3 separate regions of the Homo sapiens genome follow, and regions 1 and 2 are each linked to region 3. Evidence: fine-mapped expression QTL. A gene starts in region 3. Each other region holds a variant in brackets. All regions are shown on one strand. Distances are from middle to middle. Region 1 overlaps MPZL1 (myelin protein zero like 1). Region 2 overlaps MPZL1 (myelin protein zero like 1). Region 3 holds the start of MPZL1 (myelin protein zero like 1).

Region 1 (2,766 bases), 58 kb before region 3:
ATAATCTATAATTAAATAGTATATAAAATGCCAAACACCAAAGGCATAAAGAAGATCCGAAAAGCAGCCAGAGAGAAGCGACAGATTACCTACAGGGAAACAATGAGAATGTCAGCTGATTTTTCCACAGCTCTTCTCTTTATTAATTCTATCTGTTTATGTTGGGTTTAATTTGCTCTTCTTTTTCTAGTTTCTTCAGACAGAAGCCTAGATCATCAATTTTAGAGCTTTATTTTTTTCTAATATAAACAGTTAATGCTACAAATCTTCAAAGCACTTCTTTAGCTATATCTCACAAATTTTGATATGTTATTTTCACTCAGTTCAAAATATTTTCTAATTTTTCTTGTGACTTCTTGTTTTACTCATGGGTTGTTCAATTTTGAAATATTTGAGACTTTCCAGGTATCTTTCTGTTGATTTCTGTTTAATTCCATTGTGGCCAGAGAACGTACTCTATATGATTCCAACCCTTTTAAATTTAATGAGAATTGTTTTATGAACCAGAATATGGTCTATATTTGGTTAATTTTCATGTGTACTTAAAAAGAGTAAGAATTCTGCGCTTGATGGAAGGAGTGTTTTATAAATGTCTATTAGCTCAAACTGGTTTCACTGTTAAGTCTTCCGCATCTTTTTTGATTTTCTGTAAACCTGTTCTACCAACTGCTGAGAAAGGAGTGTTGAAACCTCCAACTATGATTGTGAATATGTCAATTTCTCCTTTCAATTCTCTTAGTTTTACTTCACTTACTTTCAAGCTCTATTATTAGAAGTATAAATATTTAGGATTATGTCTTCTTCATGAGTAGATCACTTTGTCATCATAAAAAGTCTGTCTTTATCCCTGGTTCTATTTCTTGTTCTGAAGCCTATTCTGATATTATTACCACCCAGATTTCTCTTGATTAGTGTTAATGTAGCATATCATTTCCATCCTTTTACTGTTTAAAAAATGTGGTAAAATATATATAACATAAAAATTAGCATCTTTACCATTTTAAAGTGTACAGCTTAGTAGTGTTAAGTGCATTTACATCCTTGTGCAACCAATCTCTACGATATTTTCATCCTGCAAAAACTGAAACTGTACCAATTAAACAACTCCCTATTCTTCCTTCCCCAACAACTACCACTCTACTTTCTGTCTCTATGAACTGGACCACTGTAGGGTATGGGATATTAGTAGAATCACATAGTATGTCTTTCTGTGGCTGGCTTATTTCACTTGGCATATCTTCAAGATTCATCCATGT[T/C]GTAGCATGTGTCAGAATTTCTTTCCTTTTAAAGACAGAATAATATTCCATTGTGTATATATATACCACATTCTATTTATCCACTTGTATACTGATGGACTCTTGGGTTGCTTCTGTATTTTGGCTCTTGTGAATAATACTGCTATGAACATGGATGTACAAATATCTCTTCAAGACTCTGCTTTCAATTTCATCCTTGTATTAATATTTTTAACCTACCTGGATCTTTTTATTTAAAGTGGTTTATTGCAGACAGCATATGATTGGTTCTTGCTTTTCTATCCAATTTGTCCATCTCCACCTTTTATTGGCACACTCAGCCCATTTATAGTAATACAATCATCAGTCTGGTTGAGTTTAAATCTACCACTTCATTATTTGTGTTCTATTTGCCCCATCTACCCTTTGCTCATTTTCCCCTCCTTTCCTGCTCACTTTTGGATTAACTGAGTATTTTGAAATGATTACATTAAAGTTTCTTGTTGAAACCTCCAACTATGATTGTAAATACGTCAATTTTTCCTTCCAATTCTCTCAGTTTTACTTATTTTCAAGCTCTACTATTACAAGTATAAACATTTAGGATTATGTCTTCTTTGTAAGTAGATCGCTTTATCATCATAAAAAGTCCCTCTATCTCTGGTTCTATTTCTTGTTCTGATGCCAACGTTGATATTATTACCATCCGCATTTACCATTTTCCATGTTGTAGCATATGTCAGAATTTTGTTCTTATCAGTATTGCCATTCGGAGATAGAGCTTGTTAGCTGTATCTATCTCTTTTATTTTTTTCAGTGTTTGCTCTAGAATTTGCAGCATATATCTTTAACTTACCACAGTCTACCTTCAAATTATAATTTCATGGATAATATAAGGACCTTACAACAGTATTCTTCCATCCTTCCACCCCATCCTTTGTACTACTGTTGTCATACATTTTACTTCCACATGTTATAGCCTCATAAAATGCTGTCATTATTTTTGCTGTAAAGAGTCAATTTTTTTTTTTTTGAGATGGAGTCTCACTCTGTTGCCCAGGCTGGAGTGCAGTGGCGCGATCTTGGCTCACTGCAATGTCCGCTTCTGTGGTTTAAGCAATTCTCCTGTCTTGGCCTCCCAAGTAGCTGGGATTACAGGCGCCTGCCACCATGCCCAACTAATCTTTGTATTTTTAGGAGAGATGGGGTTTTGCCACGTTGGCCAGGCTGGTTTCGAACTCCTGACCTCAGGTGATCCACCCACCTCAGCCTCCCAAAGTGCTAGGATTACAGGCGTTGAGTCACTGCGCCCAGCAATTTTCGCTATTGCTTTCTGTGTGTTTATGTTTTTCATTAAATTTACTAAAAATTTCACTATTTCTTTACATATTTTTTTCTCTCCCTTTTTCTTCTCGGATTCTAATTAGATTGCTTGATATTGTCCGGTGGCTCACTGAAGCTCTGTTCACTTTCTTTTTTTTCTTTTTTTCTTTTTTGAGACAGAGTCTCGCTCTGTTGCCCAGGCTGGAGT
Region 2 (2,766 bases), 64 kb before region 3:
TAAAAGCACTTCAAATATTCTTCAATACAACTACTTACAGCATAATTCTTTTAGTCTGAGCGTATTGTGACCAATACAAATATTGCTTCCTTGATTTTTAATATCAGATAACTGTTCTTCCTGTTTTAAAATAAAATTAAAAAGAAAAAACAAAAAGCCACAATCTACACAGATATAAAGAAAAACCCTAAATGGAGTAAAGTAGAAAAGATCCTCTTCTCAGCCTCAGCAGTAAGGAAGAGGTTACAATTCCAGGGAATTGTCAGGGTCCCATTCAGGAGAGCAAGGGAAGGTTGGGTGGCCTGGGGGCAGAGCGAATTCCCTAACTGTTGGGGGAAGAGGTCAGATAGGTGGCTGCATTTCATGACTCTTTCAGTCTAGACTCTTAAAATTGTAAACAACAACAAAATAGCCCTGGTTTTAAAAGAAAGATTTAATATTACCCAATGTCAACTTTTCTCCCAATCTAGGGGAACTCTCCTTGAGAAGTCTAATAACGTGCTTAAGCTTTCACCTTTGAAATCATAAGCTCAATAGCCAAAAGCACGTGGTTTAAAATAAACACACTTACCCTCATCCAGGAGCCCTAACAACCTGTGTCCTTAGTGTGTAACCTGGGGTTCTGTGGAGTTCAGCTACTCCCACATCTACAGAAGGGACAGGCCCAGTTGTAAGGGCTATACAATGGTGCATCTAAAAGCGGAGTTAGAAAATAACACTCGAGGACTAGAGCCATTTGAATGTTGGCAGATCTGCAGTCTGAATTATGATATCGTCTTTGTTGAACCTTAGAGAAGAGCACTGGTCACGTGGCCCTGGGCACATTTGTAAATTTCTAAGCACAAGTTTCTTCATCTCTAAAATGGTACTACTAATAATATCTACATTTTTGTTTTTTGTTGTTATGAAAATTAAATAAGATGATACCTATAACTTAGGCAGTGTCTCACAGACAGTACTTAATACATGTTAGTTATTATTATGAACGTCTTGTTACACAAACATACTTTAAAATGCACTGAGGTAACTGGTCAAGTAAATTAAATAGTCAAACTCTGTGTGTTTATCTTTAGTCTATAATGGCTGTCATAGGAAATATTAACAGATCACATGGTTAATAATCATACAGACCCTCTATATTCATCTCAGAAAGCTACAAGTTAAATGCTAACCCCACCAAAAAACAAAAGGAAGTTAAAAAGACTGTTTTCGGCCGGGTGTGGTGGCTCACGCCTGTAATCCCAGCACTTTGGGAGGCCGAGGC[G/A]GGCGGATCATGAGGTCAGGAGATCGAGACCATCCTTGCTAACACGGTGAAACCCCGTCTCTACTAAAAATACAAAAAAATTCGCCGGGCATGGTGGTGGGCGCCTGGAGTCCCAGCTACTCAGGAGGCTGAGGCAGGAGAATGGTGTGAACCCAGGAGGCGGAGCTTACAGTGAGCCAAGATAGCGCCACTGCACTTCAGCCCGGGTGACAAAGCGAGACTCCGTCTCAAAAAAACAAAAAAAAGACTGTTTTCTACTAGGAACAGAATTAAACTAACTGTTCCCTGGTAACAGCTATTTCCAAGAATAGGACGGAACTCCCAACATTAAATTATATAAATTCTTAGATAATAAAACCCCATATCATAATTCCTAAAAACTCACTAAGAGTTTTAGGGTATGTTCATGGGAGAAGGGGTTTACAATGTGTGACTGACTGCACAAATGGCTACAAACTCTTTCCTTCTCTGCATCTTACTCTTTGCAACATAATGCTGTAGGTCCTTCCAATCAAGAGTAGAAATCTGTTTCTCTACCCCTTGAATCTGGGCTGATCTTGTGATCAGCTCTGACTAACAGAATGAGGCAGCAGTGATGCTGTGCAGTTTCCACACCCAGACCTCAACAGACCTTGCCACTTCCACTCTCACTGATCTTGGGACCCACACAGCCACCACTACCATGTGAAGAAGCCAAAGTCAGCCTGATGGCTGATGAGAGATGCATGGCCCAGCTGTCCTCTGTCTGCCTGGCCAACAGCCTGCCAATGGTTAGACTGTAAGTGAGACCACTGTAGACTGTCCAGCTACCAGTCAACCTTCTAGCCAACTGCAGATGCACAAGTGAGCCAGCAGAGATCAGCTGAGCTCATCCAGACCAGAATCTGCTCGACCAATCCACAGAATGGGGAGCCAAATAAATAGTGCGTGTTTTAAGCCACTATATTTTGGGGGGTTTGTTACGTAGCAGTAGATAATTGATATATTATGTGAGTAGAAAAGAATGAGAACAGAGAAAGTAAAGAGGAAAAAGAACACAGAATTATCTTTTAGTCTGTAAATGTTAAAATATCAATGAGGTCTTTCATGTGAGACAGTACTGTCTTTCATGTCAAAAGAATACAACTATCTCATGAAAGTAAATGGGAAAACACTGAAGAAATCCCTTCCTGCTGATGGACTTGGTATTCTTCAAACTGTTTACCACTGCCTGATGTTATCCTCATTCCTCTTCCCCCTTAGAATATAATAAGGTCTTAAGTCAGGGACTTTGTTAACTTCCTAGAACTTGGCAGAACACAGGTGCTGGATGAAGGGATGGATGAAAGAAAGGATGCAGAGAAACTGCAGATGTAGGTTGAGATTGGGGTCTGCTGACAGATCTAGCTCAATCTAGAACACCTCTATGAAGTTTGATTCTGAGTGCTATTTAGAGGTGGAAGGAGCCCTGAGTCTCTATGGAACATGCCTCAGCACCTCGATTTTGAGGGCAAATGAGGCTG
Region 3 (2,766 bases):
AATGGATTGTGTCTTACACAAAGTGTGTCATCATCTGTCAACCCCTGGAGGGTAGGGAGACTTTTACATTTATGCTTTACAGCCCCTGGAATCACTGTTTAAGTGGAACAGTTGGTGATCCAACAGAACTTCACCTAGTTTCCCTGATCCAAGGATTATATTAAGAACTTTTCCATGAAGAAAGAAATTACTGAGTAAACTCTGGTATTCAGATACTGTGATGCTAAATCATAACTGACATTTTGAAAACAAAGGGAATGAAAAAAATCTACGTGGTTTCTTAGCAGCTGGCCCTCTTTATAACTATTATTTAACTAAATTCGGAGACAGCAACAAGTACTTTGCTTTGAACAACAACACAGAAAAGTCCTGTGGCAGATACCACTTCAGATGTCCATAAAACAAGTCATCCAATTCCCATAAATTGAGCCCGAGGTTTACCTTAAGCTTGAGTCACAATATTTGGTAAGAAAAAGGAGCTTTTTTTTTCCTTTAGGAAAATTATGCTTTTTAATGCTCTATGTCTTGTCAAATTATGGTGGCTACGTCTGGAATTATGATGGATTTGACCAAATTCTTTTAAGCCAGGCCATCTCACTGGTATTCCAAGCTCTTTGCATTCTAACCTAGAAGTAACAATATTTTTTTATTGGCGTTTTGCAGACCACGGAAATGAGACTCTTTTATTACGGAGACTTAAAACTGAATGAGAGCATGGGAAAGGGAACTTACAACAAAACCCTGGCTTAACAGGAAACAAATCAACAAAGGCCCTACAAATGAAAAACCTGCAACTTTCCGCCACCTCCCAAAGGTGAAGAACGCCAGAACCCTAGTTCCTGAGTCAGAATCCGGGAGGGCCTAGACGATCCAGAGTCACCACGAGGAGAGGGCAGGGTGCGCCGCGAGGGCTCACCGCAGCCGCCCGCCGGGTCCGCTCCCCTGGACCGCCCCCCGGGAAGGAGCAAGGTAAAGCACTCTCCCCTCCTCCTCCGCACTCCAGGATCCAGGAAAGAGAAGAAAGAGGCTCTGCGCCTTCCCGGCCAGTCGCGGAGGCCCGCGTTCCCCATGGGCTGGGTCCCCTCGGCCCCAGAGAGCGCAGGCCGCGCCCCCTCCCCACCTCGGCTCTCAGTGCGCGCGCCTGGCCTGCGACCGCCGCGATGGGCGTGTGTCGGGCCCGGGGGCCCCACTCCCCGGCCCCAGCCCTGGTCCTGGCATCACTTACAGAGCCCAAGCGCCGCCGCCAGCACCGACCACAGCCAGCGCCGGCTGTCTGGGGCTGCAATCACCGCCCCGGCTCCGGCGGACGCTGCCATCGTCCAGCCACTGCAGTCGCCGCCGCCGCCGCCGCGTCCCTGAGCCCGGGTCCCCGCTGAGGTTGGCTCGGCTTGGGGAAGAGGCTTCTGATCTCTCCGCCACCCGCGCCGGGTGGCACCTCCACGCCGCGCTCCCCACTCCGGTCCCAGCCGCGGCTCTCCAGCTCTGCACCGAAGCCTCAGCCCCACTCCGGCCCTCGCTGTCCGCTCATTGGCCTGCCCGCACCCTTTTAAGGACGCGATTGGAGAGTCAGGCTGTCCATCATCCGTCCGCCGGGAAGGCCCCGCCTCCTCGGTCCCACCCAGGCGCCTCGGCCCCGCGCGGAGGCCGGGTCTGCAGCGGTCCCAGGCCGAGCCGAGCCTTCCGCCTGCCTGCGTGGCTGTCCGCCTGCGGGCCCCACCAGCCAGCGTCTCCTCTGCCTTTCTCAGGGTCCAGTCCCGTGGTCCTCTTCATTGTCTCTCCTCGCCACAGGTCTTTGCTGGGTACTAACCTCGCCTCCGTTTCAGCTCTTCTTGTTCTCTGCCGGCCTCACCTAACGAAAAAGAAGCAATTCATTTACCTTAAAAAGAAAGAAAAGACAGAAAGAAAAATAATGAGGCGTTCAATTGATGGGGGAGAGACTTCTGATTCAGTCGTCCAGGTGGAACACGTTCCCCGTGCCGTGTCCCCAAGGCCTGTCCTTTGCGTGGACTAGATAATGTATGTGTTGCAATTTGCGAAATCTACTAGTTTAAAAAGAAGTCTCCATCTTGCCCTAACCTCCTCTTAGGAACCTCCCTCCTGGCTTCAGAAGGATGGGAATCTGGAACTCTTTCCTACTACCTGAAAAACAAATGAAAATGCTTTTTGATTGTTTTGCTTTCGCATATCTGTGTTCCTGTCTGTGTCCGTGAAAAATAGAAAGCAGAAGTTCCCAACACTGATTCTGAAGTGCCCTGCAGAAGTTCCCGACACTGATTGCTGGCCCTGCTCAACTTGGTTGCCTTGGCCCAGAACAGTCTGCCACCTACGGGTTGTCCAATCAATAGGGGAAATATTTGGAAGGATCCTTATGAAAATGGCTTACAAAAGGGAAAAATGGGGGACAGGGGCACAAGAAAGATGAGTGTGAAGGAGGAAAAGGGAAGATTCAGGTGGGAGGCTGATACGATGAGGAAGGGAAGCAAGCTTTAGACAATTAGGACAAGAGCGGGGGAAGAGTATGGTGAGAACCCAAAATGTAACCTCTCACTTCAGGGTTTTTGTCTAAGGTCAGTCTTAACAATGCCATTCCTGATATCTGTGCTGTTTCAGCTAACATTGCAGTACAGCGAAATCATAAGAACATTAGTGAGAAAAAAACTTAAAAAAAAAAAATACCAGAACCACTTTGCCCTATTTCTGTCAGCAGATCCTTTTGAAGTTGTATCTCAAATGCCATAGGTTGGAAAAGATACCAATGCATTAATT

What was found.
Region 1: its variant is fine-mapped to the expression of MPZL1 in blood mononuclear cells (TOPMed, PIP above 0.99).
Region 2: its variant is fine-mapped to the expression of MPZL1 in monocytes (TOPMed, PIP 0.90).

The regions. Positions count from the first base shown.
Region 1 is chr1:167,779,087-167,781,852 of GRCh38, reverse strand. The region is part of intron 5 of MPZL1 (myelin protein zero like 1); the gene reads right to left. Among named protein-coding and RNA genes, the nearest start is that of MPZL1, 58 kb to the right of the region's middle. The variant T/C (reference allele first, on the strand shown) is at 1,257.
Region 2 is chr1:167,784,538-167,787,303 of GRCh38, reverse strand. The region is part of intron 5 of MPZL1 (myelin protein zero like 1); the gene reads right to left. Among named protein-coding and RNA genes, the nearest start is that of MPZL1, 64 kb to the right of the region's middle. The variant G/A (reference allele first, on the strand shown) is at 1,265.
Region 3 is chr1:167,720,702-167,723,467 of GRCh38, reverse strand. MPZL1 (myelin protein zero like 1) reads right to left here and starts at 1,486. Exons shown (of 6, transcript NM_003953.6): 1 at 1,226-1,486. The coding sequence starts at 1,316. RefSeq lists silencers at 847-986, 1,017-1,086, 1,477-1,846 and an enhancer at 658-1,158.